Regions from separate parts of the Homo sapiens genome. Here all the other regions are linked to region 2. The links come from fine-mapping of genetic effects on gene expression. A gene starts in region 2. Each other region holds a variant in brackets. All regions are shown on one strand. Distances are from middle to middle.

Region 1 (11,070 bases), 98 kb after region 2:
AGAGACTGTCCTTTCCCCATTGTGTATTTTTGGCATTCTTGTTAAAGATCAGTTGACCATATATTTGTGGGCTTATTTCTGGGCTCCCTATTCTGTTCCATTTGTCTATATGTCTTTATTCCATTACCATACTGTTGGGATTACTATAGCTTTGTAATCTACTTTGAAATAGAAAAGTGTGATGCCTACAATTTTGTTCCTTCTCCTGATCATTTGACTATTCAGAGTCTTTGGGGTTCCATATGAATTATAGGACTGTTTTTCCTATTTCTGTAAAAAATGCCATTGAGATTTTGATATGGATTGAATTGAATCTGTAGATTGCTTTGGGTAGTGTGGACATGTTGACAATATTAAGTTTTCCCATCCATAACCATAGGATATCTTTCCATTTATTTGTATCTTTTAAAATTTCTTTAATCAACGTTTTATGATTTTTCAGTATACAAGTCTTTCATCACCTTGCTAAGTTTATTCCTAAGTAATTTTTGATGCTATTGTAGATAGGATTGTTTTCTTAGTTTCCCTTTTGGATAGTTTGTTGATAGTATGTAGAAATGCAACTGGTTTTTGTATGTTGATTTGGTATCCTTTAACTTCACTGAATTCCTTTATTAGTCCTAACAGTTTTTCTGTGGATTCTTAAAAGTTTTTTTTACAAATAAGATCATGTCATCTACAAACACATTTTACTTCTTCCTTTTCAGTGCTTATTTCTTTTTCTTGCCTAATTGCTCTGGTAAGGACTTCTAGCTCTGTGTTGAATAGAAGTGGTGAGAGTGGGCATCCTTGCCTTGTTCCTTATCTTAAAGGTATAGTTTTTCACTACTGAGATGATGTCAGCTGTGAGGTTTCATATATGGCCTTTATTATCTTGAGGAAATTTTCTTCTATTCCTAGTTCATTGAGAGCTTTTGTCATGAAAGGATATCAAATTTTGTCAATTTCTTTTTCTGTAGCTGTTGAGATGGTCATGTGTTTTTTTTAATCCTTCATTCTGTTACTATGGTGTGTCACATCTATTAATTTGTGTATGTTGAACCATTCTTACATCCCAGGGATAAATCTCATTTGTTCCCTTAATATACTGTTGAATTCAGATAGCTAGTATTTTGTTGAGTATTTTTGCATCTGTCTTCATCAGGGTTATTGGCCTATAGTTTGCTTGTCTTGTAGTGTCTTAGGCTATGGGGTAACGGTAACACCGCTTCGTAATTTGAGTTCAAGAGTGTTCCCTCTTCTTCAATTTCATGGAAGAGTTTGAGAAGGATTGGCATTAATTCTTTAAATGTTTGGTGGAATTCACCAGTGAAGCCATCTGGTCCTGAGCTTTTTTGGGGCAGGGGATGGGGGCGGGATTTTTTTTTTTTTTAATTCCTGATTCAATCTCTTTACTATTTAAAGGTGTGTTCAGATATTTTATTTCTTCATGATTCAATGTTAGTAGGTTCTGTATTTCTACAAATTTTTCTCCTCCTTTTAGGTTTTCCAGCTTGTTAGCATATAATTGTTTAATTGTTCATAGTAGCCTTTTATGGTCCTTTTTATTTCTGTGGCATCAGTTATAATATCTCCTGTTTCATCTCTGATTTTTTTTTGTTTGAGTTTTTTTTTAGTTTAGCTAAAGGTTTGTCAATTTTGTCTTTAAAAAAAAAACTTTGTTTCATTGAGTTTTTTTCCCCAGTGTTTTTATATTCTCCTTTTTTTTCCTGCTCTGATCATTATTACTTCCTTGCACTAGCTTTATACCCTGTTCTTCTTTTTCTTGCTCTTTGGTGGTATAATGTTTTGTTTTTATTTGAAGTATTTCTTCTTCTTCTTCTTCTTCTTCCTCTTCTTCTTCTTCTTCTTCTTCTTCCTTCTTCTTCTTCTTCTTCTTCTTCTTCTTCTTCTTCTTCTTCTTCTTCTTCTTCCTCCTCCTCCTCCTCCTCCTCCTTCTCCTCTTCCTTCTTCTCTTCTTTCTTCTCCTCTTCTTTCTTCTTCTTTCTTCTTTCTTCTTTCTTCTTTTTGAGACAGGGTATCACTCTGTTGCCCAGGCCGAAATGCTATAGCATAATCATGGACCACTGCAGCCTTGATCTCCTGGGATCAGGTGATCCTTCCACCTCAGCCTTCCAAGTAGCTGGGACCACAGGTGCATGCCACCACACCTACCTAATTTTGTTATTATTTGTAGAGACAGGGTCTCCCTATGTTTCCCAGGCTGGTCTTGAACTACTGGCCTCAAGCAATTCTCCCACCTTGGCCTTCTAAAGTGCTGGGATTACAGACATGAGCAACCATGCCTGGCCTTTTTCTTTCTTTTTAATGTAGGCATTTATAGCTATAAATTTTCCTCATAGCACTGCTTTTGCTGCATCTCGTAAGTTTTGGCATGTTGTATTTTTGTTTTCTTATGTCTCAAGATATTTTATAATTTCCCTATAGGAAAGGCAAAAAGTCTTTTTCTCTACTCATTTCAGGTTTTCCAGCTTAATCTTTCCAAAGACAGATTAACAGGAGAAAAACAAACAGAAGTTTATTAGCATGTGCATCATGTATGTACACTTGGGAGCACACAGCTATGAGTAACCTAAATGGGTGTTTAGAATTTGAGCTTAAATACTGTCTTAGACTAAAACAAAGGAGTGGAGGCTTGGGGCTTTGTGGCTGGGTAAGCAAGTTATGGGAAATTGACCAGGAAAAGTATAATAAACAGGGGTTGTTTAGTAAGGTTTTGTATGCACATTTAAGTTGATGTCTTCTCCATTGATATGTTAGGAGTTATCATATCCCTACTGAGTTAGAGGGAGATATCTCTACAAATGGAAATTTTCTATTTAAATATAAATTTCCTTTACAAAAAGAAAATTTGTGCCTTGATTTTAGAGCTTCATATTGAGTCTGCTGATTCTCAGTGGCATTTGGCTCAAAATCCATTAAATAAAGATTATTTGGGGTAACATATTCAGACCCATTTGTTGGTTGTTAAAGACCCATTCATTGGTTAAGAGTATATTGTTTAATTTCCACATATTTGTGAATTATCTTGTATTCTCTCTGCTATTGATTTCTACTTTAATCCTGTGGTGCTCAGAAAAAATACCTGGTGTCATTTCAGTCTTCTTAAATTCATTAAGACTTGTTTTGGGACATATCCTGGAACATAGCACTTCTGCTGCTCTGAGGTGAAATATTCTATATATGTCTTTTAGGTCCATTTGGTCTATCGTGTTTTTCAAGTCCCCTATTTCTTATTGATTTTCTGTCTGTTTGTTCTAGCCATTACTGAAAGTGGGGAATTCAGATTTCCTCCTACTATTGTATTGTGTTTATTGCTCTCTCCAGTTCTGTCATTGTATGCTTTATATATTTAGATGCTCAGATATTGGGTGCATATATATTTATAATTATTCTATCTTCCTGGTGAAATGACTCTTTTATCATTATATAATATTCTTTATAACACTTTTAATATTCACATATTGCTGTTTTTACCTGTCTACTACTCATATTTCTAGAGTTTTCATTGCTACATTTGGAAGCACATGTCTAATATTCCTTTTCAGAGTACACACTAGATGAAAGATGAGGGACTGTCTGACCAAGGATCCAGAAAGGGATAGTTCAACTATAGGTGAAGGTAGTTCTAAACTCATGACTATGTACTATATAGTCTTTAAGGAGTAGCATAAGTTTAAGGCAATTTTTGTCTCCTAGTGTCTCTTCTCTTGGCCAAATTTAACATCTCAAGTAGTCCTTTGGATGAAAGGTAACTGGAGATGTTTTTTATTTTGATTTTTTAGACAGAGTCTTGGCCTATCACCCAAGCAGGTGTGCAGTGGCATGATCATAGCTCTCTGTAGTCCCGAACTCCTGAGCTTAAGCCATCCTCCCATATCAGCCTCCCAAGTAGCTGTGAGTACAGGTGAGGGTCACCTCACCTGGCTAACTTTTTTTTAAGAGATGGGGTCTTGCCGTGTTGCCCAGGCTGATCTTGAACTCCTGGGCTCAAGTGGTCCTCCCGCCTCAGCCTCCCAAAATGCTGGGATTTCAGGCGTGAGCCACTGCACCTGGCTGTTTGCTATTTAAAAGACATTTTCAGGCCAGGTTCGGTGGCTCATGCCTGAAATCCCAGCACTTTGGGAGGCTAAGGCGTGAGGGTCGCTTGAGCCCAGGAGTTTGAGACCAGCCTGGGTAACATAGTAAGACCCATCTCTACCAAAAATTAGCTGGACATAGTGTCACGTGCCTGTAGTCCCAGTTACTTAGAAGGCTGGGGCGGGAGGATCGCTTGAGCCCAGGCGGTCAAGGCTACAGGGAGTTGTGATCACACCACTGGACTGCAGCCTGGGAGACAGCGTAAGACCCTGTCTCAGATAGATAGATAGATAGATAGATAGATAGATAGATAGATAGATAGATAGATCATTTAGGTAGGGTTAAGTCTTCATGAGCATTTAAATCCAAATTAGCATTTTATTCTGATGGGTTTAATAGGTCCAATGATGAATGAATTCTGATGGGTGGTAGCTGGCTCATCATTTGTGGAACTGAGTAAACCCTATTAAATATCTGTTTTTGGAGGATTTGGCAGTTTGGGAAGAGCCTCTGAGCTCTATGTTCCTCGGTAGACAAGGTACCAAGTGGTTGAAATGTAAATATGGAGATGAGGCATTGAAAAGGAACAACTTTACTGATGTCTTGCATAATTGCAAAACTAGCAAAAAAAGGAAAAAAAGCCCACCTCAGAAAGACTAATTTCTCTTGATGAACACTTAGATTTAAAATTAAGTGGTCTGTATTTGTTGATGTAAGTATCAGTCATAAACAGCTTTGGCTGAATACTATGAAGCTATTTCTTCAGTGTCCAAGCAAGCACTCAGTTGCTTTTTAAATAAAAGTTCATGTTATTTTACCAAATTATAACAGTAATATTTACCAAATTAAATCAATATTTTATCCAGTACCTCCATATCAACATAAGGAAGAGAACCAAATTAAATTATCAAAATTTGTTGGGAATCCTAATGGTAAAAATAAGCATAATTACAAAAATTTCTACCTATTTGTGTCTAATGCAGGAAGTCTCTATTCTGACATGTATTCTAATGATGAGAAAAGCTCCTCACTCGTTAGGGAAAGTAATCAGATAGCCTGACCACTGCCACAACCCTTAAAGTCACTCACTGAACATTCACTAGATTGTCCGGAAAGCGTATTATGACAAATGCAAATAAAAGAATTTAAAGACTGTCACTGTTAGCTAATTACCACTGGGACAGAATCTTAAGCAGTGCATTTGAAAATTCTGAAACAGATTGGATTTATTATAAATTAATGACATAGGATGTTCATTAATTATTAAGCTTTGTTGAAATACACTGAATGTTGTACACAGGTTTTACAGCCAATGGCTGCCATCAGAATGTTTTGAAATTATACCCACGAGAAAAATAGAAAGGTTTTTATCTCCATTCATTTCCAGTGGCTTGTTAGTTTTAGCATGGGGGAAAACATAACTTTTCCCGAGTTCTCAGTTGGCAAGAACACTTGTGGCAAACTTCAGATTAACAAAAGAAAACTAACAGAAGTTTATTAACATATATACTTCACGTATTCATGAGAGATGCCTAGGGAATACCAACTGAATCTCCAGAGTACAGGCATACCT[T/C]GTAGATACTTTGGGTTCAGTTCCAGACCACTGCAATGAAGTGAATTTCACAAGGCAGTCACACTAATTTTTTGGTTTCCCAGTGCATATAAAAATTATATTTACACTATACTGTAGTCTATTAAATGTGCATGATGTCTGAAAAAACAACATACATATTTTCATTACAAATAGTGGCCGGGCATGGTGGCTCATGCCTGTAATGCCAGCACTTTGGAAAGACGAGGAGGGCAGATCACTTGAGGTCAGCAGTTCGAGACCAGCCTGGCCAACATGGTGAAACCCTATCTCTACTAAAAATACAAAAATTAGCTGAGCATGGTGGTGTGCACCTGTAATCATAGCTACTCGGGAGGCTGAGGCACGACAGTCACTTGAACCTAGGAGATGGAGGTTGCAGTGAGCCGAGATCGTGCCACTGCACTCCAGCCTGGATGACAGAGCAAGACTCTGTCTCAAAAAAAAAAATTAAAAAAAAAATTATTGCTAAAAAGTGCTGATGATCATTTGAGCCTTTAGAGAGTCATAAACATTAAGACAGCAGTGAAGTTGATTGCATCAGTAGACTCTTCCTTTCATTTCTCTGCAGCATGCAATGCTGTTTGATAGCTTTTTACCTACAGTACAACTTTCAAAATTGGGGTCAGTTCCTCTCTAAGTTTGTGTAATATTCTAAATCCCTTGTCCTTTCAACAACATTCATAGTATCTTCACCAGGAGTAGCTTCCATCTTAAGAAACCATTTTCTTTGTTCATCCATAAGAAACAACTCCTCATCCATTCAAGTTTTGTTTTGTTTTGTTTTGTTTTGTTTTGTTTTGTTTTGTTTTGTTTGAGACGGAGTCTTGCTCTGTCTCCCAGGCTGGAGTTCAGTGACTTGATCTCGGCTCACTGCAACCTCTGCCTCCCAGGTTCAAGCGATTCTCCTGCCTCAGCCTCCTGAGTAGCTGGGATTACAGGCATGTGCCACCATGCCCGGCTAATTTTTGTATTTTTGTAGAGACAGTGTTTTGCCATGTTGGCCAGGCTGGTCTTGAACCCCTGATCTCATGATCTGCCCACCTCAGCCTCCCAAAGTGCTGGGATTACAGGCGTGAGCCACTGCACCTGGCCCCATTCACATTTTATCATGAGATTGCAGCAATTCAGTATTCAGATTTTCCTTCTAATTCTAGTTCTCTTGCTGTTTCTGCAACAGCTGCAGTTACTAACCTCCACTGAAGTCTTGATCCCCTCAATCATCCATGAGGTTTGGAATCATCTTCTCAACTCCTGTAAATGTTGACATTTTTGACCTCCTGCCATGCATCAAAAGTATTCTTAATGGCATCTAGAATGGAGAATTCTTTCCAGAAGGTTTTTAATTTACTTTGCTCGGCTCCATCAGGGGAATCACTATGGCAGCTATAGCCTTAAGAAATTTATTTCTTAAATAAGACTTGAGAGTCAGAATTACTTCTTTATCCATGGTCTGCAGGATGGGATGTTGTGATAGCAGGCGTGAAAACAACATTCATCTCCTGGTCCATCTCCATCAGATCACTTGGATGACCTGATGCATTGTCAATGAACAGTAATATTTTGAAAAGAATCTTTTCTTCTGAACAGCAGGTCTCAACAGTGGACTTAAAATATTGAGTAAACCATGCTGTCAACAGATGTGCTGTCATCCAGGCTTTCTTGTTCCTTTTATAGAGCACAGGCAGAGTAGATTTAGCAAAATACCATAAAGGGAAGTGCAATTAAAGAGATGCCTATAAATGTCTAGGAGGTGGCTTTAATACATGTCTACAGAAACAGAGGAGGCGTAGAGAAAACCTGTTATGGGGAGGTGATCAGGAAATATCTAAACAAGGGTAAGGTTTGTTGCGCAGATTTAAGTAGGTGCCTGCCCCATTGATAAGAGTTTCTAGTTTAGATTTAGAGCCATCCCTTTCTTTCTGGTACAGAGATGGAGACACCTTTACAAATGGAGATTCCCTTTATGGATGTAAATTTCTCTTACAAAAGGGTAACTTGCTTTATGTTTTCAGAGCTTTTCCAGTTTCTGCTGTTTCTCAAAATAATCCTTATGCCAAAAAGGCATATTTGGGGTACAAATTTTTGTCTCCTACAGTCATGTTTTGAGGTGGAATTCCCTGAGCCCCACCAGCAGTAACCTTCAAAAAACAGAACATTGACTTTTATAGTATTTAATGCCTCCTCTTCACAGAAATGTATCCACTTTCTTTCTTTTTTTTTTTGAGATGGAGTTTTGCTCTTGTTGCCCAGGTTGGAGTGCAATGGAGTGGTCTCAGCTCACCACAACCTCTGCCTCCCGGGTTCAGGCAGTTCTCCCGCCTCAGCCTTCCGAGTAGCTGGGATTACAGGCGTGAGCCACCATGCCTGGCTAATTTTGTATTTTTAATAAAGATGGGGTTTCTCCATGTTGGTCAGGCTGGTCTCGAACTCCCGACCTCAGGTGATCAGCCCGCCCTTCTATAAAAAGTGTGGTATATCTTAAAAAGTCCTTTTAAAGAAATGATAATTTAATATTTGAGATAGTTATTTTATTTGGAAGTACTAGATTATTTGCATTTTAATATTTTAATATTAAAATTTAAATATTTAATCAGGTAGAAATATTCCATGCTGGGAATTTTGTTTAAAAATTCATTTTAAAAAAAAATCTATGTTTATGATATTGTTAGTGGGAAATTGCTATTTAAAAACAAGTGAAGAAATCTTGGAAATAATGTTTAGATTCTAATTTGTTTTAGTTTACTTTTTCTACTTAGAATTGTGTTGGTGAAAAGGATAAAAGGCTTATACAGAAGCCAAATGGTATTTTTATTTTTATTTTTGAGACAGAGTTTTGCTCTTGTCACCCAGGCTGGCGTGCAGTGGCACAGTCTTGGCCCACTGCAGCCTCTGCCTCCCGGGTTCAAGCTACTGCCTCAGCCTTCTGAGTAGCTGGGATTACAGGCATGCACCTCCATGCTCAGCTAATTTTGCATTTTTAGTAGAGACAAGGTTTCGCCATGTTGGTCTAGGCTGGTCTCAAACTCCTGACCTCAGGTGATCTGCTTGCTTTGGCCTCCCAAAGTGCTGGGATTACAGGCATGAGCCACCGCCACCGTGCCTGGCCTCCAAATGGAGTTTAAAAAGTTGCATTTATTCAGGTTCCTTTGTTGTATTCCTTCAAGAACTGTGTTCTTCCCTCTCAGAGCCCTTATCCCAGTTGCTCATGTAAGTTCATCAGTGCAATCGTTGGCTAATGCCTTCGTCCCTATGGGCAGAGCCCCTGCATACTTCTGCCCCCCTTTAAATTAAGTTTAGCCTAAAGCTGACTCCTTACATATTTTTAGTTTTTCCTAAAGGTCTCCTGGTACATAGTGAACTGTGACCTAACTGGATCTGTAAACAGACATTAGGGAGACATAATCTCCCAGCAATCACCGAGTATCAGCCAATCACAGCAGCCAGCTGTTCAAATCATGTTCAAATAAGGCAAATGCCGGGCTGTAACCAATCGGCTGTTTCTGCACCTCATCCCCATTTTCTGTGCATCACTTTCCTTTTTATTAACATAAATCTCCAACCATATGGCAGCACGGAGTCACTCTGAACTTATTCTGGTTTGGGGAGCTGCACGATTCTCGAATTGTTCTTTGCTCAGTTAAACTCTGTTAAATTTAAATTGCCTTACATTTTTGTTTTGTTTTCGTTTTTGTTTGTTTGTTTGTTTGTTTGTTTGAAGGAGTCTTGCTCTGTGGCCCAGGCTGGAGTGTAGTGGTGCGATCTCTGCTCACTGCGAGCTCCGCCTCCTGGGTTCACGCCATTCTCCTGCCTCAGCCTCCCCAGTAGCTGGGACTACAGGCGCCCGCCACCATGCCCGGCTAATTTTTGTATTTTTAGTAGAGATGGGGTTTCACCGTGGTCTCGATCTCCTGACCTCGTGATCCGCCCGCCTCGGCCTCCCAAAGTGCTGGGATTACGGGCTTGAGCCACTGTGCCTGGCTTGCTTCTTTTTTTTTTTTTTTTTTAACACCACTGTTGTGTCCCCAGTACCTGGAACATTGTATGTAGGCATGCTTTAAGTGGGGGAACAGATGCGCTGATGGATGGGGGAAGAATTCTTCTAGTCATTCTAACAGTGCATGAGGCTTTTTCAAAGATAATAAAATATTAATTGTTTTTTTCCCCTTTCTTGGCAACTGATAGAAAAGATTGCTTTACTGTTTTCTCTTCTTTTTCATTCTGGATCTTGTATCTCTCAGGCATTGCTATAATTCCATTTTGTAGAATGGGAGTCCTTTATAAGAATTCATAGGCATTGCTAGGCACGGTGGCCACGCCTGTAATCCCAGCACTTTGGAAGGCCAAGGCGGGAAGATCACGAGATCAGGAGATCGAGACCATCCTGCCCAACATGGTGAAACCCTGTCTCTAGTAAAAATACAAAAATTAACCAGGCGTGGTGGCGGGCGCCTGTAGTCCCAGCTACTTGGGAGGCTGAGGCAGGAGAATCACTTGAACCCGGGAGGTGGAGGTTGCAGTGAGCTGAGATTGCGCCACTGCACTCCAGCCTGGACGATAAGAGCAAAAACTCCGTCTTAAAAAAAAAAAAAAATCGTAGTCATTAACCATAGCCTTTTAAAAGGCAAGACTCATGATAGAAGGATTTTTTGTTTGTTTGTTTGTTTAATAATCGTGTTGCCAAAAGGACCTTATTGCAAGTTAGGTTCATATGTAATGTTTTTCCCGCACAGACACCAGAGCATTGTTGCCTAATTCCCAGAATTGACTTATTCCTTCAGAGTCTTTAAACAGCTCAGTTCTTTTTTTTTATTTTTTGAGACAGAGTCTCGCTGTGTCGGCCAGGCTGGAGTGCAGTGGCGTGATCTCGGCTCACTGCAACCTCCACCTCTGGGATTCAAGTGATTTTCCTGCCTCAGCCTCCTAAATAGCTGGGATTACAGGCAGGTGCCACCACGCCCAGCTAATTTTTTTGTATTTTTAGTAGAGATGGGGTTTCACCATGTTGATTAGGCTGGTCTCAAACTCCTGACCTCGTGATCTGCCCGCCTCAGCCTCCCAAAGTGCTGGGATTACAGGCGTGAGCCACTGGGCCCAGCCTTCATTTTAAATTTTGAAGCTGTTTGGCCAAACTGCTTCTTATTTCCAACTGCTTGATTATGCTTGCTTTTTGGGAAAAGAGAGTATTTTAATATTATGGTATTTTAGCAGCACAATGTCATGTGAAAGTCATTGCTTAAGAAAAGTTTTAGGTGATGACTTTCAGGATAAGTTGATATTGATACAAGAGGTTTCTTTTAACTTTACCAGGTTCTTGACATTATTTTGAAAAAAACACCCAGTTATTCAGACAATCATTGAGGCTTTAAATTTTTCCTTAAGTATTACAGTTTAACATG
Region 2 (11,070 bases):
AACTATGGTATATCTTAAGGGGTCTGCAAAGACCATCTTAATGGAGAATACTGCTTGCTTTTTTTTTTTTTTTTTTTGAACAGAGTCTTGCTCTGTTGCTCAGGCTGGAGTGCAGTGGCGTGATCTCAGCTTACTGCATTCTCCACCTCCCGGGTTCAAGTGATTCTCACACCTCAGCCTCCTGAGTAGCTGGGATTATAGGTGTGTACCACCACACCCAGCTAATTTATATTTGTAGTAGAGATGGGGTTTCGCCATGTTGGGCAGGCTGGTCTCGAACTCCTGCCCTCAAGTGATCCGTCCTCCTTAGCCTCCTAAAGTGCTGGGATCACAGGGGTGAGCTACTATGCCTGGCCAAGAATACTGTATTTTTCTGTCTCCTTAATTTTCTTATATTTGGATAAACATTTTTATTTATTTTAAGCTGAGTAGTATATTTTTATGAGCCTGCCCATATTGATCAAAGGAAGTCTGATGCTCCTAGATGGATAAATGAAATACATTTTCTTAAATACAGAGGAACCTGTTTATTAGGCAGGATAAAAATAACATAGAGCTGTTTGTATATCATGATTTCACTCATAAACAACAGTCTTTGACAAAGCAGAAGACATCTTTATTTTGAAAACATTCTCACTAATGTTTTCTGATTGATTGATCGAGACAGGTTCTCACTCTGTTGCCTAGACTGGAATGCAGTGGTACGATCACAGCTCATTGCAGCCTTGTCCCCTTAGGCTCAAGCAATCCTGTCATGTCAGCCTACAGAGTAGCTGGGACTACAGAGGCACACCACCACAACCAGCTAATTTTTAAATTTTTAGTAGAGGTGGGATCTCACTGTGTTATCTAGGCTGGTCTTGAACTCCTGGCCTCAAGTGATCCTCCTGCCTTGGCCTTCCAAAGTGCTGGGCTTATAGGTGTGAACCACTGCTTCTGGCCTCTTTTTTAACATCCTAATTTGGAGGACAGAGTTGCCTCTGGTATCCTGTGTGGATATTCTGAAATAAGTGAGGTATAAATTCAATGATATGCCATTTGGCTCATACTGAAACACAGAGTAAGCCGTTTATTAAGCCACAGTTCATCTTCTCAATTCTAATGGTGAAGTGCTTCTTTTGACTGTATATAGGATCCAGCTACCCACCATAAACCAAATCTTCAAGGATACAATCTTTCCTTGGTACCTTCCTCTTACCCTGTCTTTGTGAGCAGATGATCCTCTGTCCCTACAGGGTTCTAACACACTCCCAGGCCAACATCATTAGCCATTTGTGAGAATTTTGGGTCTCAGGCACAAAAGAAGACAGTTCCATTATGGAAGACTCCATTATGGAAAGGTTTGCATTTGAAACGCTTTTAGGATCAATCTAGGCCAGTGATTCTCAACTCAGCTTCGCATTAAAATGACTTGGATGCTTTTTCAAAAATATTGATGCCACCACCTTGGGACAACTGAGTTGTTGTTGTTATTTGTTTTTTCTTGGGACAGAGTCTCTGTCACCCAGGCTAGAATGCAGTGGCACTGTCATAGCTCACTGCATTCTTGACCTCCTGGGCTCAAGTAGTCCTCCCACCTCAGCATCCCAAGTAGCTGGGACTACAGGCATGCACCACCATGTCTGGCTAATTTTTAAATTTTTTGTAGAGACAAGGTCTTACTATGTTCAGCTCACTCTGGTCTCGAACTTTTAGGCTCAAGTGATCATCCTGCCTCAACCTCCCAAAGTGTTGGGATTACAGGCATGAGCCACTGTGTCCAGCCGGAAAACTGTTTTTACTGGTCTGGGGTTGGGCCCAGATACCCTTTTTAAAAATTAGTTTCACAGGTGTTTTAACATGATCAAGCTTCACCTCCTTATTTCAGGTAACAGCTAGAGAGGGAAATGGAGAGCCCCTTTCTATAGAGGGAATAGCAAGATGGTTAACGTTCATCATTTGTTTAGCGTAGCAGGAGGCTACACACCCAGGCCTGAAGCAAAACTGTAACTTGACTTGTGACCTGGAACAACTGAATTAGTTTCTCCAAGTCTCAGCTTCCTCATCTGTGAAATGGAGGAAATGATGTACCTTCCACATAGGTCTGCTATAAGATGTAAATAAGAAAATGGAGGCTGGGCGCAGTGGCTTGTGCCTGTAATCCCAGCACTTTGGGAGGCCGAGGTGGGTGAATCACTTGAGGCCAGGAGTTCAAGATCAGCCTGGCCTACACAGCAAAACCCTGTCTCTACTAAAATTACAAAAACTAGCCAGGCGTGGTGGCGCACGCCTATAATCCCATCTACTCGGGCGGCTGAGGTACGAGAATTGCTTGAACCCAGGAGGTGAATGTTGCAGTGAGCCGAGATCACGCCATTGCAATCCAGCCTGGGCGACAGAGCAAGACTCTGTCTCAAAAAGGAAAAGACAATGCAGGAGAGGTGCTCAGCACAATGCTTAGCATACAGTAAACACTGAGATATGCTTGCTATTGCCATCACTTATCCTTCATTCAAAAGTATTTATTAAATACTGGGTACTACATATTGTGGTGCACCAACAAGATACAGTTCTTTCCCCTGAAGTTTCTTGTCAAGGAATCAAGACAAAGCAGAAACAACAGTGGTGCAGTCAGTGCTATAGTTACATTTACTGTCAGAAGGGGTCAAGGAAAGCTTTCCAGAGGAGTGAAGGTGCAGAGCTGAGCCTGGAAAGATGGTTTGAAACAGAACAGTTAATGCAGGGGTGGTGGCAGTGTTATAAAAGAAACAAAACAGGAATTTGCTGGGAGAAGTAGATCTAATGTTTCCTTTTAACTGCATTTTGATCTCTTTCTTCTGTCATTGGATACTTGGTTTCGTTCATCCCTAGGCCACCACATAAAAAAGCTTGGCATTGAGGAATTATTAACCCATTTGAATGCCCACTGTGTGTGAGGCACGGTAGCAACACAAAAGATATATACCATGCCTACCAAGTTCAGAATGCAGGCAGTGCACATGATGTCATCAAGAACATCTGCAACTCGTGAACAAATAAAATAACTGATAGTTCTAGACTTTATGGACACCCTGTAGAGAAGTAGAGGACAAAGACCCTACTACCAAAAATGTGCATCAGATTGAGAAGGCAAATTTGCAATAACTCATGCCTAGTCTATTTTAACAGCTGGACAAGTATCAAGCCCAGCAAGCCCTGGCCAGGTCCAAAGGACAGGCATGCTGGGAGCCAGGGCAGGAAGAACAGGCTTCATGGAGGAAGTAGACCTTAACCTGGGCCTCAAAGGGAAAGTATTATTAAATACGTCAGGATGAAGGACATCACTTCGGGCAGAGCAGCTTCAAGCACAAAGACTAGAAAGCAGGGATTTGGAAGGTGTTCTGGAGAATGAACAACTCCATGGGCTAGAAATATGAGTTACAGAGGTGAAAAGTGGAAATGGGTAGTAGAGAGCTCAGGGCCCAATTAGGGGGTGGTGGTGGTGATGGTGAGGAGGTGAAGTTAATATTTACTTATATAGGAACGGGGAATCTATTAAAGGTTTTTGAGCAAGGGAGAGGTATGTGTAAAGTGATTGTATATTGCAAGATTAATGTGGTTTGGAACATATTAAATTAACAGCAGGGTATCTTGATAGAATTGTGCAGGGACCATTCAGAATGTATTAGTGGAAGTCAGGAGTGAGGTTAAGGGTATATATTCTGGAGTTGGGAGTCACCAGGATCCGGGATGGAAGTAATAGTAAATGAGGGCTGTGAGAGACAGTAAAGATAAAAAGCCTGTGGTTTACAATTAGGGGATGGTAAAAATATTGGAGGATTAGAAGGGAGGAAGAATCTGAGTCAACAAAGACGAAAGGACTGCTACAGAGGAAGGAGAAAAACCAAGCCAATGGTAGACCAAGAGCAAGGTGATTAGAGGATCAAGTGCTGCAGAAACTCTAGGGGAATGATGGATTTAAAAATAAGTAATTTGATTTGTATACATAAGCAAGAAAAACTATTAATATATAGCTTTTTTTGAAAAATAACGGCACCAAAATCCACATTTATTTTTATTACCTTTGGTGAACAAAACATACGACAATAGATTCTGGAGGGTGGGACGTTAAAGGAAGACATTTTAAGAATCAAAGAGTCTTAGCTGTGTTTATTGGGGTAGAGCCCTTGGGTGCAGAAACATTTAGGGATTCGGGAGAAAAAAGGGATGATGTTTGAAGGAGGCAGGAGGGAAGTGGACGGTGTCAGGAGGTTCAGCTCCTCCCCTGGAATGGGGAACCCTGAAGATTTGAAATGGATGTGGGAGCTCCAGACAGATGGCTTCCATGTTCCAAGTAAAGTACAACTTGAAGTACGACGTGATGGTGTTTGACATTTAACAGATGTCATCTGTTCTCTGCAGAGTCACTCAGCAGCCTCCCCTGTTGCAGACACCTCCTTAGGTTTGGAACACACTGTCTATACAGGGCCTAAGTGCAGGATTTTGGTGTGTTCCTTATTTCATTTATTTTTGTTTAACTTGTGGCAGATAAATACAGGTTATCAAAAGAATGGGACAATGAGTAAGCACACACCAAACTAAACAAAACAAAACAAATAGAAACATCACAAGTCTTGAATTTTTTTTTTTTTTTTTTTTTTTTTTTTTTTTTTTTTGGTCAAAGAAAGAACTCATTGGTTGATTTAAGTCGGTGGTAAATCAGAAAGTTGAAAATAAATCACCCTCCTTCTCCAGGGTTCTTCCGGATAGTTCAACTCTAAATTCAGCTGAGAGTATTTCTGATGCTCAAAGAAAAGTGTCTTAAACTCTGATGTTTTAATGTAGTTAAAAAAAACACAAAAAATCTTTGCTGAGGCCCAAGCTGAGGTCAAAAACTACCTCTAGCCATCTGGTGCTTTATTTTTATTGATTAGAAGTCTCTGATAAGACTGATTTGAATGTGATTTAGGAATATCACATTCTAAATGGTCAGTTTGCCTATTCCATTATAGAAATGACACTACGGGAAAATTCATCATCACAGACCACAGCAGAAGTGTTCTTTAGTTAAAGCTCTACCTAGTCATCCAGAAAGCCAGTAAGTAAACCAAATAAAAATAGTTCACTGGGCTCAGAGTGGCAAGTTTTGCATGCAAAGATCGTGAAAATTGTAACCCTAACAATAAATCCAATACTGTTCTCGACTCTCTTGTGTGTCCAGTGCTGCTGCAGTCCTTGGAAGGCTTTTAAACTGTTCAGAGCTTGCTGGTTATCTTCAGCCAAGCCAGAGAGTGGGAGTGCAGTGCATTTTAGTGTAACCATGCGGAACTGGTCGCTCCTTGATTTTGTGCCGTATGTTTCCATTTGTGTAGGCTTTTTCCCCCCTCAGTATTTTGTTGCTTATCCTTTAGAGCGAAATTGGTTTTTCCTCGGCCAATAATCTGTTTCTTTAAAAAAAGAAAAATTCGTTACCTATTGCCTTTTTTTCTGGTCTTCCTGAGCAAGCCAGAAGTCACAAGGTCGTTTACTAAACGGAAACTAAGAAAAAGAAAAGCCACATCAGCCGGCACAAGCCTCTCTAACTTGTGTGCCCTGAGGCTCATCAGATGCGAAGTCCTGGCGACAAGATAGGGTCGCCCGCAGTGGCTTCCTAAAGCGCAGATCCAGGCCGGCTCCCAGCGTGGAATCCGACCCATGTACTTCGCCTCTCCACGTGGCATCAGATGCTCTGCCGGCTGTCACCGTGAACTCCAGCCCTCGCGGAGCCGACACTGACCTGGCTACTTCAGAGTTCGGAGGGAAATAGCGTCTCCGTACCCTCGCCCCACCTGGGCTGCTCCTCGGACCGCCGCTCGTCCCAGACTCCAGGAGGCGCCACCAGGCCTCGCTGACCCCGCTCCATATCTCCGGGAGCCCTCAGCTGGTCGGCCGCGGCGACCGGAAGCTCCGGACTGAGGTACTGGTTCCGCCCGCCGCTCTTCCAGCCGAGACTCGGCAGCGGCGGTCGGAGCGGCTGCCACGCCGCACCTGCCCGCGAGGGGGCGCGCCAGGCCCAGGCCGCAGCCGACTGCCGCGCTCTCTGTCCCCGCCCTCCGCCATCCCCGGACTGCGCTCACCTGTCTGGGCCGCTGGCCTGGGAGGCGGGGGCCGGCGGGAGCCAAGCCGAGGAAAGGGCGGAGCGGCTCTCCGGGCGCGTCATCGGAGCACCATGGCGGAGCTAGGAGCTGGCGGCGACGGCCACAGGGGCGGCGACGGCGCAGTGCGAAGCGAAACAGGTGACCGCACAGCGGGGATAGTGGGGGTCCCGTCGGGCAGGGGACGGCGAGCGGGGCCGGCGGGCTGGCACCGAAATCACCCGGCGCCGGCAGCCCCCTCCCCGCCCGCGCGGCCGCGGCCCGGAACAACCGGCCCTGCGCGCCGCGCACCCTGCTCCGAGAGCGCCTTCCCCCGCCCTTCGCCGCCGCGGCTCGGCCAGCCCGGCTCGGCCCCGGCCGGGGTTGCGGCCGCCCTCGGGCGCTCCACCGCGACTTTCCCGCAACAGGTGGAGGCGAGCCGGGGGAGGAAACGGAGAGACCCCGGCCGCTGCCCTCCCCGCCGCGGCCTCGGGTCTAATTCAGTTGAATGGGAAATCGTATCCCCCAGACCAAACCAGTGGCCAGAGAGTCGTCGGCCAGGTGCGACTGGCAGGACGAGCAGTTTCTGGGCACCTCCTCCCGCCTTCCCTGGTCGCCCCGGGTGCCGGGGGCTCCTCAGCGGGGTCGGTGTGGGGCAGGACCGCGGGGTGAGCGGCCCGCCCCCCAATCTGGTGCCCGCAGTGGCGACGACCGTCGTCCGAGGGGACCGAGCTCGGGAGGGCCGGGGCCCAGTGCAGCACGGTGGGGGTTTGCGAGTGCGGGCTTGACGGGATCAGACTTTCGTTGACTTGTCGGAGTTCTCAGAGTTTTTTGTTTTTAGTCTGTGCAGGAGCCCAAAGGAGGATTGTTGGCTCTGCAGCCCGGGATTTGGTGGTCAGGCCTCTGTGTTGAGGATACCCCTCCCCCACAACCTCCAGGGGCACACTTAGGGACAGGGGATCACGTCCCCAAGACCAGCAGCAAGGCTTCCCAAGACCAGCAGCAAGGCTTCCCAACCCCGCCCATCTCTCCATAGTATGAAGCCGATTTTTCTCCCTCGTGATTTTTTTTTCTCCAGAGGCTATCTTGCAAATCCGTCCCTCTCCACTGGTTCCCTCTTCTATTCTTGGCCAGTAAGCTGTTTCTATATCTTCCTACACTTGGGGATGGGGGCAGTGAGGCAGTTTCTTACTTTAAAAAGAAATTCAATTCTTAGACTCTCCAATTGCAAGCTGTTTTCCACTTCCATACGGTCACAATCGGAAGCATTTGTTTCCTAAATGTAAGAATCACTGTCTCCCCACCATCAAGTATGCTTATTTTAACGTGAAAGGTCCAGAGAGCTCTGAAACAGTATTTGCAAATTATGTATCTGCTATTGCTAGGAAGAGGTTGGGTACGTAAAGTCTAATGATTTAATCCCTTCAGCCAAGATACCTGAGGTTAAGACTGACAAAGTATCTTGAACTTGTTTAAGTCATGCTCCTTCCTGTAGGGAGTTTGTCTTAATGTGTTCGCAAGATTGGTAGATCATTATTTTGTTTTGGGGTGGAGAAGAGATGCCTTTGTAATTGCTTTCGGGAATTTGATGAGCTAGACGCTGGGACGGGGCTCCCCCAAGTGAGGGCCCCGGGAGAGGAGCATCCTCATTTGTAAATATACGGCATGATTTTCGTTCCTAACCCTGACCCAGTAACTGCATGTGAAACAACATTGTTCTAGCGAGCTAAGTGTTAGTTTGTGCTCAAAAATAAACTTTCTAGAATCTGCACGTGAACAACTTGTTCAGACATAAGTGAACTGACTACAAACTGTAGGATATTCAGTGCCTGAGCATGTTAAGGAATAGGCCGTGCTTCCAACAATTAATATACAAATCAACCATGTGCCTGTCAGTGTAATATTTTCTTTTATTAAAAAGGGAGTTAAATTGGCTGTTATCTCCTTCATAGAAAACATTTCTTCCACACTTTTGCCTAAAAACTTCATTTTCCAAAGGACATTTTTTATATATGGTCTTGAATAATTATACTTTATAATTTCACTGAAAACTTAATTCTGGCCCCGCATCTCTTTCCTATTTTTCTACCCCAAGATTACTATTAATGTTTTTAGTGTTCAGAAGCATTTGTGTCAGCAGGTGCCAAAGAAAGAAGGAAGGTGTAAATGTATTTTTTTGAATCTAGGTGGTAGTTATTTTGAGAGAACAAGTGAGATTGTTTGAATTTCAACAACTTAAGTTATTCCATATATTTAAAACACATGACCTATATCTGAATATGAGACTTTAATTTAGCACTTCATTCTGGTGAACATATTTCACATTATACACATCCAAATACTGCAAGTCTCATTTTTTTAAACAATCAGAAGTTTGTATGGAATTGTTGGGGGGGTGGGGGGGGGTGGTGGTGGTGGGTGGCCGTGGACAGAGAAACTATTACCATCAAGAGTTGAAAATTGCCACCTTAAATGGCAACATTTCTTGAGGGATTAATTTTATTTCTTTTTAGAACTCATTATTATGAGGTAGAGTCCACTCTTAAATAACTCTTAGTTTTTGGGTCTCTATACAAAGACTGGTCTAATTTTAGGGCACTTTAGATGAGAATATCAGGTTATTATAAAAATGATACCTGTAATGTGTTCAGAATTATATGTGTGAGTGTGTGTGTGTGTATATGTGTATCAAAGATGAATTGACAGTGGTGGCGTGTGGCCTATGAAATGAGACCGTTCTTAAGCATATTGAAAGCTATTATATAAACCCAACATTTAAAAACCCTATTTCTGTGGGTATATATTCTCAAAGTTAGTCAAATCACATTCTTTGTGGCGAAAACATTTATTTTTCTTGAGGATGAAAAGTTCTTCCAATATAATATTTTTCTTGCCAACAGCCAAAGTTAAGAGCTGGGAAAAAAAAAATTGCCTTGGAAACAAGTTTAAGACATCACCACTAGAGGATGTCAAGTCCTTTTTCAGCCTTTTTTGAGTAGTCGACCTACGATGGGTGATATTCACAAAACTGCCTCTACCCAAGCTTTGTATATTTAATTTTATGTTCATGTTCAAGAGCTGTGGAAAGCGAGTGTACAGCACTAATTTCCTAGTCTGATAGCCTGTTTTAAAAACCTCCTGAACTAAAAGCAAATTTAAAGCTGCTTTTGATTAATTCATGAAGCTTTCATGCACGAAGGAATAAGTTAATGCCAATAACCTGTCAATTCTGTTGATATTTTGGGAAGTGGGTCATGACTTAGAATCTGGAATTGGGCTTTTTGTCCATTTTAGCAACCTGTGTGGTGAACATGGCCTCTTTCGTGACCATCCTTTCATGAACTTTTCCAAATCAAAAAGTGATCTTGTAGGTGTCACTTAACTCTAAGGGTCCACATTAAATATCTGCAATTAAATAAGGGCTCAGACGTCAATTTGGTATTAAGCTTGTCCCCTTTGAAAGAGATGCTTCATTCACATAGCTAGATAGCTTTTCTCCCATCCTATATGGCTGTTACCTTTACATCTTGCTAAGTAGGAGGAAACGTTATTATTAGACTAGGCAATTGTGCTCAGGAGCATGCATTTATGTAATATTGATAGGCTTGTGTGAAATATTTTTACACAGTTTATTTACACTGGCATTTTCTCTAAAAAAATTCTAACATCTTTGCCTCCCAATGCATGAGAAACAATCATTTGGAAGAGTTATTTTTAAAAACTCGGGCCTCGTATTGATGTAAGAATTGAAAATATTGAGGCTTAGAATAAGAAATGTGTACCTTCTGTGTATTCAGCATTATGGTGGTTAGAAGGCTGTTGAACAAATGATCCTTGAATTTAGCAAGGAAGACAAAATTCACCAACAAACAGTTGCAGGTTATGAGGAGTTCAGTGAAGGAGGAATCACTTCCGGCTGTGGTCAGCAGGAAGAACATACTGGATACAGCACTGAAGTTAAATTTTAAAAAGTGGTGGAACTGGAGATCATTATGTTAAGTGAAATAAGCCAGGCACAGAAAGACAAACATTGCATCTTCTCACTCATTTGTAGGATCTAAAAATCAAAACAATTGAACTCATGGACAGAGAGAGTAGAAGCATGGTTACCAGAGGCTGAGAAGAGTAGTGGGGGTAGGGGGTGGGAGGTGGCAGGGAGGTGGGGATGGTTAATGGTTTGAAAAAAAAAAAGGCCAGAGGCAGTAGCTCACGCCTGTAATCTCACCACTTTGGGAGGCTGAAGCAGGCAGATCACATGAGGCCAGGAGTTTGAGACTAGCCTGGGTTACGTGGTAAAACCCCATCTCTACTAAAAATAAAAAAATTAGCCTGGTGTGGTGGCGCACGCTTATAGTTCCAGCTCTTTGGGAGGCTGAGGCAGAAGAATCACTTGAACCCAGGAGGTTGAGGTTGCAGTGAGCCAAGATTGCACCACTGCACTCCAGCCTGGGTGACAGAGCGAGACCATGTCTCAAAAAACAAAAAGTTAGAAAGAATAAGAATAGTAACAAATACTATTTGATAGCACAGCAGATTGATTATAGTCAATAACTTAATTGTACTTTTAAAAATATCTAAGAGTGTAATTGGATTGTTTGTAACACAAAGGATAAATGCTTGAGGGGATGGATACCCCATTCTCCATGATGTAATTATTTCACATTGCATGCCTGTATCAAAACATTTCATGTACCATATAAATATATATACCTACTATTTACCCACAAAAATAAAAAAAAATTAAATTTGTTTTAATTTAAAAAATAAAAAAATAAACTTTTAAAAATGGGTAAGTGGGATATAAAATTAGATGGAGGAAAGGGAGAAAAAGATGCAGGTGTGAAAAAGAGCAAAGTTTTGGTCATATTGACACATGTGTAAAGCTCAAAGAAAGTCCTAGGTCAGTTAGGAATGATTGTTCATCGAAGTCAAATTGTGGAAGGGCTGAAGGCCAAACTGAGAGGCTAGTACATTTTTCTGGGGTAGGGTAGTGGGGGAA
Region 3 (9,508 bases), 21 kb after region 2:
GTTCAGATGAACAGGCTGCTTAGTTCTCATTAAAAGGGTTCATTTGATAATGCTTTTAAGCTCACCAGTACTTGATTCTCAAAGGGTGATCATTAGTGAAAATAAAGAGGGATTTAATAAGTCTAAGATATCCTGACCCCAACTGTAGGAACATTATATTAATAGAGCATTACAGTATTGGAAAATTATCTGAGTAAATAGAATCCATCCTATTCAATGAAGATTATGATCATTGATACATAAGCCTTTGACTTTTGAATGGCATGCTTTCGTTCGCAGCATGTTGACTTGAATGTGGGAATGGAGTATCTTAATCTCTCTGAGGTCACTGACTGATAGGTTAAGTGTCAGCTGGGCTCAGCCCAAACATTAGATGTTGCTGGGAAGGTATTTTGTAACTATGATTAACATTTACAATCAGTTGACTTTAAGTAAAGGGGATTATCCTGGCTATGGGTGGGCCAAATCCAATCAGGTGAAGGCCTGGGAAAGAAGAAGAAGGAGGAAGTCTGCCTTAAGACTGTGACATGGAAATCCTGCTTGAGTTTCGAGCCTGCCAGCCTGCTGCACAGATTTCACACTTGTTTGTCCCCACAGTGGCAGCAGCCATTATTCCTTAAAATAAGTCTTTATATACAATATATTTCTCTCCAGAGAAACAACCAAAAATACTATTGGTTCTATTTCGTGGAAGAATCCTCACTGATACACTCACCCTCAAGAAGAAAATTAACAGTTTTTACCCAGAATCATACAAATCGCTTTATTTAAGAGATAAAATTTAATAATTAATCTTTCCTGATTTTTGAAGGTAAAAACAGGATATTACGCTTTCAGTAAAAAAATGGATGTCTTTTAATTTCAGGGGGGTTTAGGAGAAAGAAATGGAAAGAGTGGCAAAGTAGCAAAGGATGGTGATACGGTTTAGATATGGTTTCATGTTGAAATATGACATCCAATGTTAGAGGCAGACCTAGTGGGATATGTCTGGGCCATGGGAGCCGATCTTATGAATGGCTTGGTACTCCTCTTATGGTAATGAGTGAGTTCTCATTCTGTTCGTTCATGTGAGAGCTGGTTGTTTAAAAGAGCCCGATATCTCTCTTGCTCCATTGCCATGTGACACACCTGTTTCCCTTTCTCCTTCTGTAAACGTCCTGAGCCCTCAACAGAAGCAAATACCAGCACTGTGCTCCTTGTACAGTCTGCAGAACTCTAAGCCAAAACAAAACTTTGTAAATTATCCAGTCTCAGGTATTTATAGCAACACAAAACGGACTAACACAGATGGGATTGAGGAAAAGTCTTAAAACATTCTGAAATGAATGTTCTTCACCTGTCCGATGCTTTGCTGTCCTAAAGACTTAATGCTGTCACTATCCTTAAAATGCCCAAAAAGTCATACACTGAATTGGTTTGCTGTTCTTTAGTATCGCTCTTCATTTAGATTTCATCTCTCAAGTCACATAGCTATAGGGATCCACCTATAACAAATTGGCTCATTGAGGGGAAAACTCTCTTATTCATCTTTATCAGTAGGTTTTTTGTTGTTGTTTTAGATGGCGTTTCACTCTTGTTGCCCAGGCTGGAGTGCAATGGCCCAATCTCGGCTGACTGCAACCTCTGCCTCCTGGGTTCAAGCGATTCTCCTGCCTCAGCCTCCCGAGTAGCTGAGATTACAGGCATGCGCCACCATGCCCGGCTAATTTTGTATTTTTAGTAGAGATGGGGTTTCTCCATGTTGGTCAGGCTGGTCCCGAACTCCCGACCTCAGGTGATCCACCCGCCTTGGCCTCCCAAAGTGCTGGGATTACAGGCATGTATATCAGTAGGTTTTCATTACATTGTGGGTGAGAGAATGTGGGAAGTCTGGAAGCCGCAGGTGCGGAGATCAGAGTAGTGTGGCCCTCTTCTAACCCAAACACCTGGAGAAGGTTCAGTTGTTTCTGTGATTTAGCATTTAAGGCTAAAACCTCGGGACCATCAGTTGAATAAGTAAAATAATGAAACGCAGAGTTGCTTACAAAATGAAGCCATGCGAGTAAGTATGTGCACAGGTACAGCAAAGGAGAGGGCTTTATCTCAGCCTTGCTTTTTCCCTCTGCCTGAGTGTTCTCTCTTGGTTATATAACTCGACTTTCCATTTGCATCAAGTCATGGAATCTCAGGATCAGAAGAAGCTCTAGAGATTAAAAAAAAAAAAAATTCAACCTGTAAACAGTGCATTAATCCAACATCATCATTCCAAATCAGTGTTTGTGCACAGCTATCTTCAATGTCAAGAAACATAACTTTTTACATTCTGATAACTTAACAGTCCCTGGTCCCAGTTTTCTCTTCCAGAACTAAATTTACACTTCCACTAAAAGTGTAAATTCTTCCATATGTTAACCTTTAATTCTGTTATTTTATTCCTCTGGAGTCTTGTCTTATTTTCTTCTATGTTATGTCTCCTATGTTATGGCCTAGAATATTTATGGTAAGTCCTAGGTCACTCTCTTCTGAAAGTGTTCTCATTTATCATCCTATTTCAAATATCTTGCGAGTACCATGTAGTATGAGGACCAGTAAACAGAGAACGCTTGTCCTCCTATTAGGCACGCTGGTGTCTGCCGATTCCACTGTGACACTTAGGGTTTTTACTTCCTCAGTGCGCTGATGATGTTTAGTGAGCTTGTTGTCCAAGTGCTCGCTTTGTTTCTGGGGCAGCTTGGGTAGGTCTTCATTTTGTACCTGTCCAGTTGAACTTTTTTTACATATAAAAAGATATGTTCCTGTTTATTCTTACTGAATGGATAAGAATATAGCCTATTCAGTGGGAATAAACTGAATAGGCTGTATCCTGTCTAAGTATAGCTCATTATTTCATTCTTTGAGATCATTTTGGACCTGAGTCTATCCATCTCTTAGCTTTCTTTTTTCTATGGATATAGAGCACTTGTTCTCATATTAATCTTTAATAAAAACATAACTACCTTTCTTTGCATTGCCCACTTCTCCATCTTTCATCTGGACTATTGCAGGAGCTTGGTATTCACGTTCAAGCCTATGGATAAGTTTTTCACACTGCTAGAGGGGTGTCTGTTAAAAAAACACAAACATGATTGATTCTCATATTCCTGTTTTTACGTCTATCCCTATGACCACCATTTGATCCCTTTTCTTTACTTGGACGAAGTAGTTACATAGCTAGTCTCTGTCCCGTCTCTCTCTTTCTCACTTCAAGTTCATCCTGGCCTGTCTGGATCACACATTTAGCTATCAATACCCTTCAGTGGCTCCCCACTGCCTCTGTTTGGTGAAAACATTATGCCTTTGGCTCTGTATCCTCTCTGATGGCATGCCCCAAAGCACCCCATCTGTCATCTTTAACATGATTTTACTACTCCTAAAGCAAAGCAAGTCAAGGAACCATAGTTTCATTTTCTTTCTAATGGTGTGGCTCAACAATAAAACTAAATTAAACACTAAATTAAACTGCTCACAGACCCTCAGTGAATTAGGTAACTTACAGAAACACAGTCCGGGCATCTGTATGAATCTTCTGTTGAACCCAGCGATTGATTTCTTTCCCTCATTTGGAATCTATAAAATTGGATTTCTTAGCCTAATTATCGTGAGAAGAGAGGACAGTCTTTGCACATTTAACTTTTATCAAGTAATTCAGAAGTTCATGTAGTGCACATTAATAAAGTATTATCAATGAGAGTAATGAACAAGAGGGCTGAGAGGCATTCCATTATGTGCTACTGGGTTAAGGTTTAATGTGGCATTTCACACCTAACATTTAGGAAAGGGTTTTAAAGCTTAGTATCCACACCTTACATTTGTATAAATGAATCCCTAGCGTTTGAAATTTGTTTATGATAGAGCAGACATGGGAAAATGGACTCTGTAGGCACCATGAAGTGTTTTGCAGTGAAGATTTATAGAAATGTTGTAAAAGGCACCACAGGGACCTGGTACTTCTGGCTGATGGCATCACCGCTACTAGGGCAGTATTTACTGTTTTTCTTATATGCCTGTTAACAAAAAGTGGTCAAATAAAGAAGATCAAAGCAAATCTGCCTCTTCCTTTCAAAGGGATGATATTTCTTTGTGCAGTATTTCTTTATCCAGCCTCTTCTATGCTATGCATGATGCTGCAAGATGGCAGAATGTTGTGCCTTTATCGTCACAAAAGCCATCAGTAAGTGGCATAATTCTAGGAAACTCTGAGGCTGCCCTTTAACTTCAAGAATAGAGTGGCAAAGAACCAGCTGGGACCCTTTGTTCCTTAGTGGTTGTTTGATTCCATGTCAACCTGTGCTGGCTTTGTCATTTTCAAAATCATGCAAAGTTTTTAAGTTGCATAAAAATATTGTTAAAACTCCTGCTAGAAGTAAATTTCAGTTTATCTTGGGGAGATGCATTAAATACTTAAAAGATTGCTGAAGTCCGGTAGTTTTGAAGAATTAACCATCTCTTCGAATGTTGAAACGTGGAAAAGAATTTTGGCACTTCTGGACCCTGATGAAAAGTAAATAACTTATACATACGTGGAACTTGTAATTTACTGGTGACAGGCCATTCAATCCAGCAGTAATAATTTCTGTTTTCAGCTACAGCCATTGAATAGTACAAATTAGGCTCTTTTTTCTTTCAATAATGTTTTTGTAAAGCTCACTGGGCTTTTAGAAAGGGAAATTTTAGGTATGTTTCTCACTGGTTAAGCAGATTTCTTGGATTCATTCATGGAGTGTGCTGTTTTCCAACTTTATGGTCACACAAGTCTAGGAAGCATA[A/G]ATGTGAACAGAAAGCTGACTCTATGTGTGCGTATGTGTATGCAGGTGACTACATGTTAGTCTTTTATATAGCATTGTGACAGCTAGGCCCAAGTCATGAGCTTACTTCCCCAAAGATCAGCAAGTTTGACTCTGTTTCATATTCATCCAACTCACAGGTTGGACATAGGCCAGAGATGCCAACCAGCCAGGGTAGGAGGACAAAGAGACATAAATTTATTGTGGACCAAGCGGGTGGGGCCTGCAGTTGCTCGGGGGCCTATTGGACTGTTTTAATCATAGTAGCTGAGTGGTAATGTTTTTACCCATAAATGTGAATACATTTTGAAATTATACTGCAGAATATTTTTACGCAATATAAAGCCAATCTAGTTGTAAAATCTACCATTTTGCACTAGGCAGTGCCTCATTTCTCTCAAATTTGTACAAAGCCTCTATTAATACAACATTTATCACTTTAACAATTTAAAGAAAGTAATTGCAAAACCTTACTGATTGTTGGAGGGCTGCATGCCCATTTCCCATGGGGACTGATTTAAGCCTCTGTATCTGCATGTGACATGCAAGGATAGTTGTGCCACATCTAATTGAAAATGCTCCTTAGTGCTGGAGAAGAGTTCAGGAGGCTGGGCGCGGTGGCTTATAACCTTTAATCCCAGCACTTTGAGAAGCCAAGGTGGGTGGATCACTTGAGGTCAGGAGTCAAAGACCAGCCTGGCCAACATAGTGAAACCCCATCTCTACTAAAAATGCAAAAAAAAAATTAGCTGGGTGTGGTGGCAGATGCCTGTAATCCCAGTTACTCAGGAGGCTGAGGCAGGAGAATCACTTGAACCCGCGAGGTGGAGGTTGCAGTGAGCCAAGACTGCGACTGCACTCCAGCCTGGCGACAGCGAGACTCCATCTCAAAGAGTTCAGGAATTCAGAGTAGTGTTTATTTTACTTTGGCGGATATTTAAATTTAAGGTCTCACCATATCCCTTTCCGTATTTGCCTTTGGTTTGGATCAAAATGTAAAAGGGAATTGCGAGAAGATGGTACCCACACCTCTACAGGGATCAAGCCACAGTATTCCTGGAATTCCCCAGGAGCTAACCCCTATATCCATTAAAGATTGGGTGTGAACATTTAAGAAACTAATCTCAAATGAATTTATGTCTTAAGTGAAAAATGTGTCCTTTATAAGGGAAGGAAAAAAATCCTTTATTGTTATTATTTGATCTTGTGCTGTTTGCTTTTCTGTGACAGTGACACAGCTAGTTGATGTTGGGGTCAGGATTTACACGACAGCAGGATGAGAGCATCTTGACTCAGTGGAGATAATGTGTTAGTTATTAGAGCAGCAGCTAGCTTTGTTTGGAAGCTGTAAGCTGTATTTGGGTGACAAACATTTCTAAATGAAATTAGTCATTTGCTTAATACAGATTTTCATTTTCTTTACCAAAAGGTAGTTTCAAGTATGCTTATTTTGTATGTGGGGTTTTTTTTGTTATTATTTTGCTTTTTTGTTTTGTTATGCTTTTGCTATTGTAAATACTGACCTGACTCTCTTGAAGTAGAGGAAAGAAGCTAATGTGGATTTGAAAATATTTTCATTTCACAAATAGTATGATATTGATGTATATTACACCTGTGTTTATTGATCATCTGATTAAAGAAAAATAATAGGAAATAACAAATCATGTCTCATTCAAGAATAAAAGTTTACAAATATAGAAAATTATGGAAGTATGTTACGTTTACAATTTGTATCCATTTTTTTATTTCTTAAACAATAAGATCTTATATGCGTCCTCCCTTTCCTTCCATCTCCACATAAATTGGAGATCGATCTAGGATTCTAAAACATCTGGGTCAAACATTTGTCATCGGGAGAAGCACTGGACTAGGAGGAAGATGGTCTAAATTTTAATTGTAGACTTGCTGCCAACTAACATTTGACCTAGGCAAGGAATTTCACTTCGTGAGATTCAGCTTCCTCGCATGTAAAACGATGCTGACTCACTTGCTTTCTCAGGCCCATTCAGCTCCAAAACTCCATTCTATTTTATTCCAAAGACCCACTGCACAGATTGACACAATTTAAAATAAACTCTAAAACTGAAATTTCCTGCGTTTCTTCATGCCAGAGATCTAAATACATGTGAACTTAATTAAATCAAGCAGCCTGTGGAGGGAAAGAGTTCTTAAGATTCATTTATTTTTTTCAGCATGTGTTTGCTCACAATTTAGTACATCCCCCAGCACCATGCTGGACAATAAGAGTAGATACAAAGAAGTACTTCCTGGTAGCATTGATAGTTGAACTGGAAATACCTTGAAAATAATTACAAAGCAAAAAATGGACTAGTTACAGCAAACTATTATAAAGTATAATAATAGTTGGTATTTATTAAGCACTTCAAGTTGCTAGCACTACACGCATTTAATCCTCACCCTAATACCATAGGTAAATGATAGTCATCACCCCAATTTTACAGAGAAAACGGAGGCACTGAGAGAGTTAAGTGAATTGTCCAAAGTTACTGTTCCACGCAAGAGATTTAGAGAGGATATTGTACTTGCCTTAGACTCCCTTGGGCCCTCTTTTGGGTAAGTAGGTTTAAGTACTGAGAAAAAGTAAGGGAGTAGTTGGGGAGTGGGAGGATTGCTTTTGACTTGCTAAGCAGACTTGATTTTTATTAAAACACAAAAGCAAAAAAAATGTTTTTTCTTAATTTGGCAGTTGGCATGTTTTAATGTCATTTATTGTAAATTTTTTTTGGAGACAGCACACATTTTAAGCAGTCTAGAAGTGGAGAGTCTTAAAGTGAGATAGCTTATTTCAGGAGAAAACAATAGTCACATGATTCTGTGCTTTGAAGAAAACGATCCAAAAAAGAGCTAAAATTGGGTCAAGTGTTGAGCATTGCTCAGCACCGCTGGTAGCAACTGCCCAGAGCGGTAGGGATTGAGGGTGGGGGGTGTGCTGGGTGTAATAGAGACAGGTTTTTCTCCTTTGGAGAATTCCCCAGTATAGGTTCTGTCCTTGAAACTTGAGTTGCAGAGGAGACACTCCACGTTGTGATCTCTGGTGGGAGCCAGCATAGTTCTTCCCTTGCCTGTCTTCACCAGAGGGTTTCAGGGACATGGCACTGGTGGCCCTCATGACTGGTGCTGCCAACCCTGTTCTTATACATGCTCTGGGGTGGTAAGAATGTCAGGAAAGTAAAGTGAGCTGCTCTGTGGGTACCAGCCATGCCTTCATTCATCCAGGGGCTTGCAAACATTGTTATGATAGACAACCTGGCCCAGAAAAGAAGAAAAAGCCTTTCTTCCTCAGGCTTCTGTCTCCATACTGAGGAGTCTACTGCTGCTTGTGCAAGCAAAACTCTTTCTCCTCCCATCCTGCTGCGCTGCCGCTGAGAGGAAGAGGGAGCTGCCCAGCGGCCTCACGCTGTAACCCTCTGCTGGTGAGTTCCCAGAACCCAGCATCCTGCAAGCTGCCGCTTCTCAGCTGGGGAGATGGAGCCGCTCTGGGCCCTTCTTGATTAGGATATGTTAGGGTTGTCAGGGCAACTGTTAACGGCAGCATATCATATTTTCCCCTCTCTGCTGTGGGCTGAATATTTTACTGTGTGGTAGCAGGAAGAAGATTGGAAAAAGGTGCTGCAGCAGGAAGAAGCTGGGATCTGATTGAACAGGTTGTGCAGTGGTGGGAGGCATCAGACCCTGCGTGTCTGTAGTAGGGCTTTTCTGGAAGGAGTGTGTGTGTGTGTGTGTGTGTGCGCGCGCGTGTACGTGCATGCATGAGCCGGAGCAATCACCAGCGCATGTGCCTGTCGGGGAGTCAGTGGGAGGGGGCTGGTAGGGGAGGTGGGGAAGCTGCTGCTAGGTGAGGGGAACTGCAGGGCCTCAGTTGCCAAGTGGCTGGTACTATCTGTCAGCTGTTTGCAAACTGTTTACCCATAGGGGATCTATTACAAGTGCTCAAATGAACAGGCAGCTTAGGAACTAGCAGCTTCCTGGGAGCTGCAATTACATAAGCATATATTTTTAATATAATCACAATTAAAAAAAAAAAAAACAAGTAGCAGCGGTATGCCTGGATCAGCTACAGCTCTCCGACATGAGAGACTGAAGAAGACCAATGCAAGGCCAATTCCTCTTGGTTTATTCACCATTAATGAGGAAGACGAACAGCAAAAGAATGGAAATTCCAGAAGACCAAAAGGTATGCATTAGCTCCACCCTTTGGTCGGAGCCAGATCCAGCCCTTGTCTCCCACACTGCCTATAGAACGTTTTATAAACTGTGCTGCTCGTGCATGCTCCAGGGAGTGCTTGTGACCTCCTAGCACGGTTTGCTGGTAGTGTTTATACCCTCTGTAGGGTTGTGTATGCATGAAATGGGAAACAGTTTTTGTAGATTCGGTGTATTTCAGATCAGTTGCCTTTTTTGACTTAAGCTACTTTCTTGGCCTAGAGATGTTTAATTTTTCCCATGCTCACTTCAGCAGTGACCAGTCACTCTGTCCTCATCAAGAGGAGGAAATACTGAGTTATCAAGGTTTAAACGAACATCTCCCCACCTTCCTTAGGTGCCTCAGATAATTTTTGCTTATTTTAATGAAGTGAGTTTCTGCTTTAAAGGATGAGTTAAAGTGACTCAAGAGTGCAACCTTTTCTAGGCAGAGGGTCAAAATGTCACTTCCCTTTCTATACTAAAATGTCAAGAGTAAAGAG

What was found. PIP is the estimated chance that this variant, and not a neighbour inherited with it, causes the effect. A credible set is the group of variants that fine-mapping cannot tell apart.
Region 1: its variant is the best candidate, but not a certain one, in a credible set for the expression of MAP7 in esophagus muscle (GTEx, PIP 0.82).
Region 3: its variant is the best candidate, but not a certain one, in a credible set for the expression of MAP7 in whole blood (TOPMed, PIP 0.53).

The regions. Positions count from the first base shown.
Region 1 is chr6:136,447,611-136,458,680 of GRCh38, reverse strand. All of the region lies in intron 1 of MAP7 (microtubule associated protein 7), which reads left to right. Among named protein-coding and RNA genes, the nearest start is that of MAP7, 97 kb to the left of the region's middle. The variant T/C (reference allele first, on the strand shown) is at 5,654.
Region 2 is chr6:136,545,505-136,556,574 of GRCh38, reverse strand. It overlaps MAP7 (microtubule associated protein 7), which reads left to right and starts at 6,153. Exons shown (of 18, transcript NM_003980.6): 1 at 6,153-6,233. The coding sequence starts at 6,167. MAP7-AS1 (MAP7 antisense RNA 1) reads left to right here and starts at 4,070. Exons shown (of 1, transcript NR_186370.1): 1 at 4,070-5,852. RefSeq lists silencers at 5,852-6,201, 6,242-6,421, 6,432-6,481 and enhancers at 5,703-6,240, 6,779-7,317.
Region 3 is chr6:136,525,321-136,534,828 of GRCh38, reverse strand. The region is part of intron 1 of MAP7 (microtubule associated protein 7); the gene reads left to right. Among named protein-coding and RNA genes, the nearest start is that of MAP7, 20 kb to the left of the region's middle. RefSeq lists an enhancer at 8,253-9,063. The variant A/G (reference allele first, on the strand shown) is at 4,785.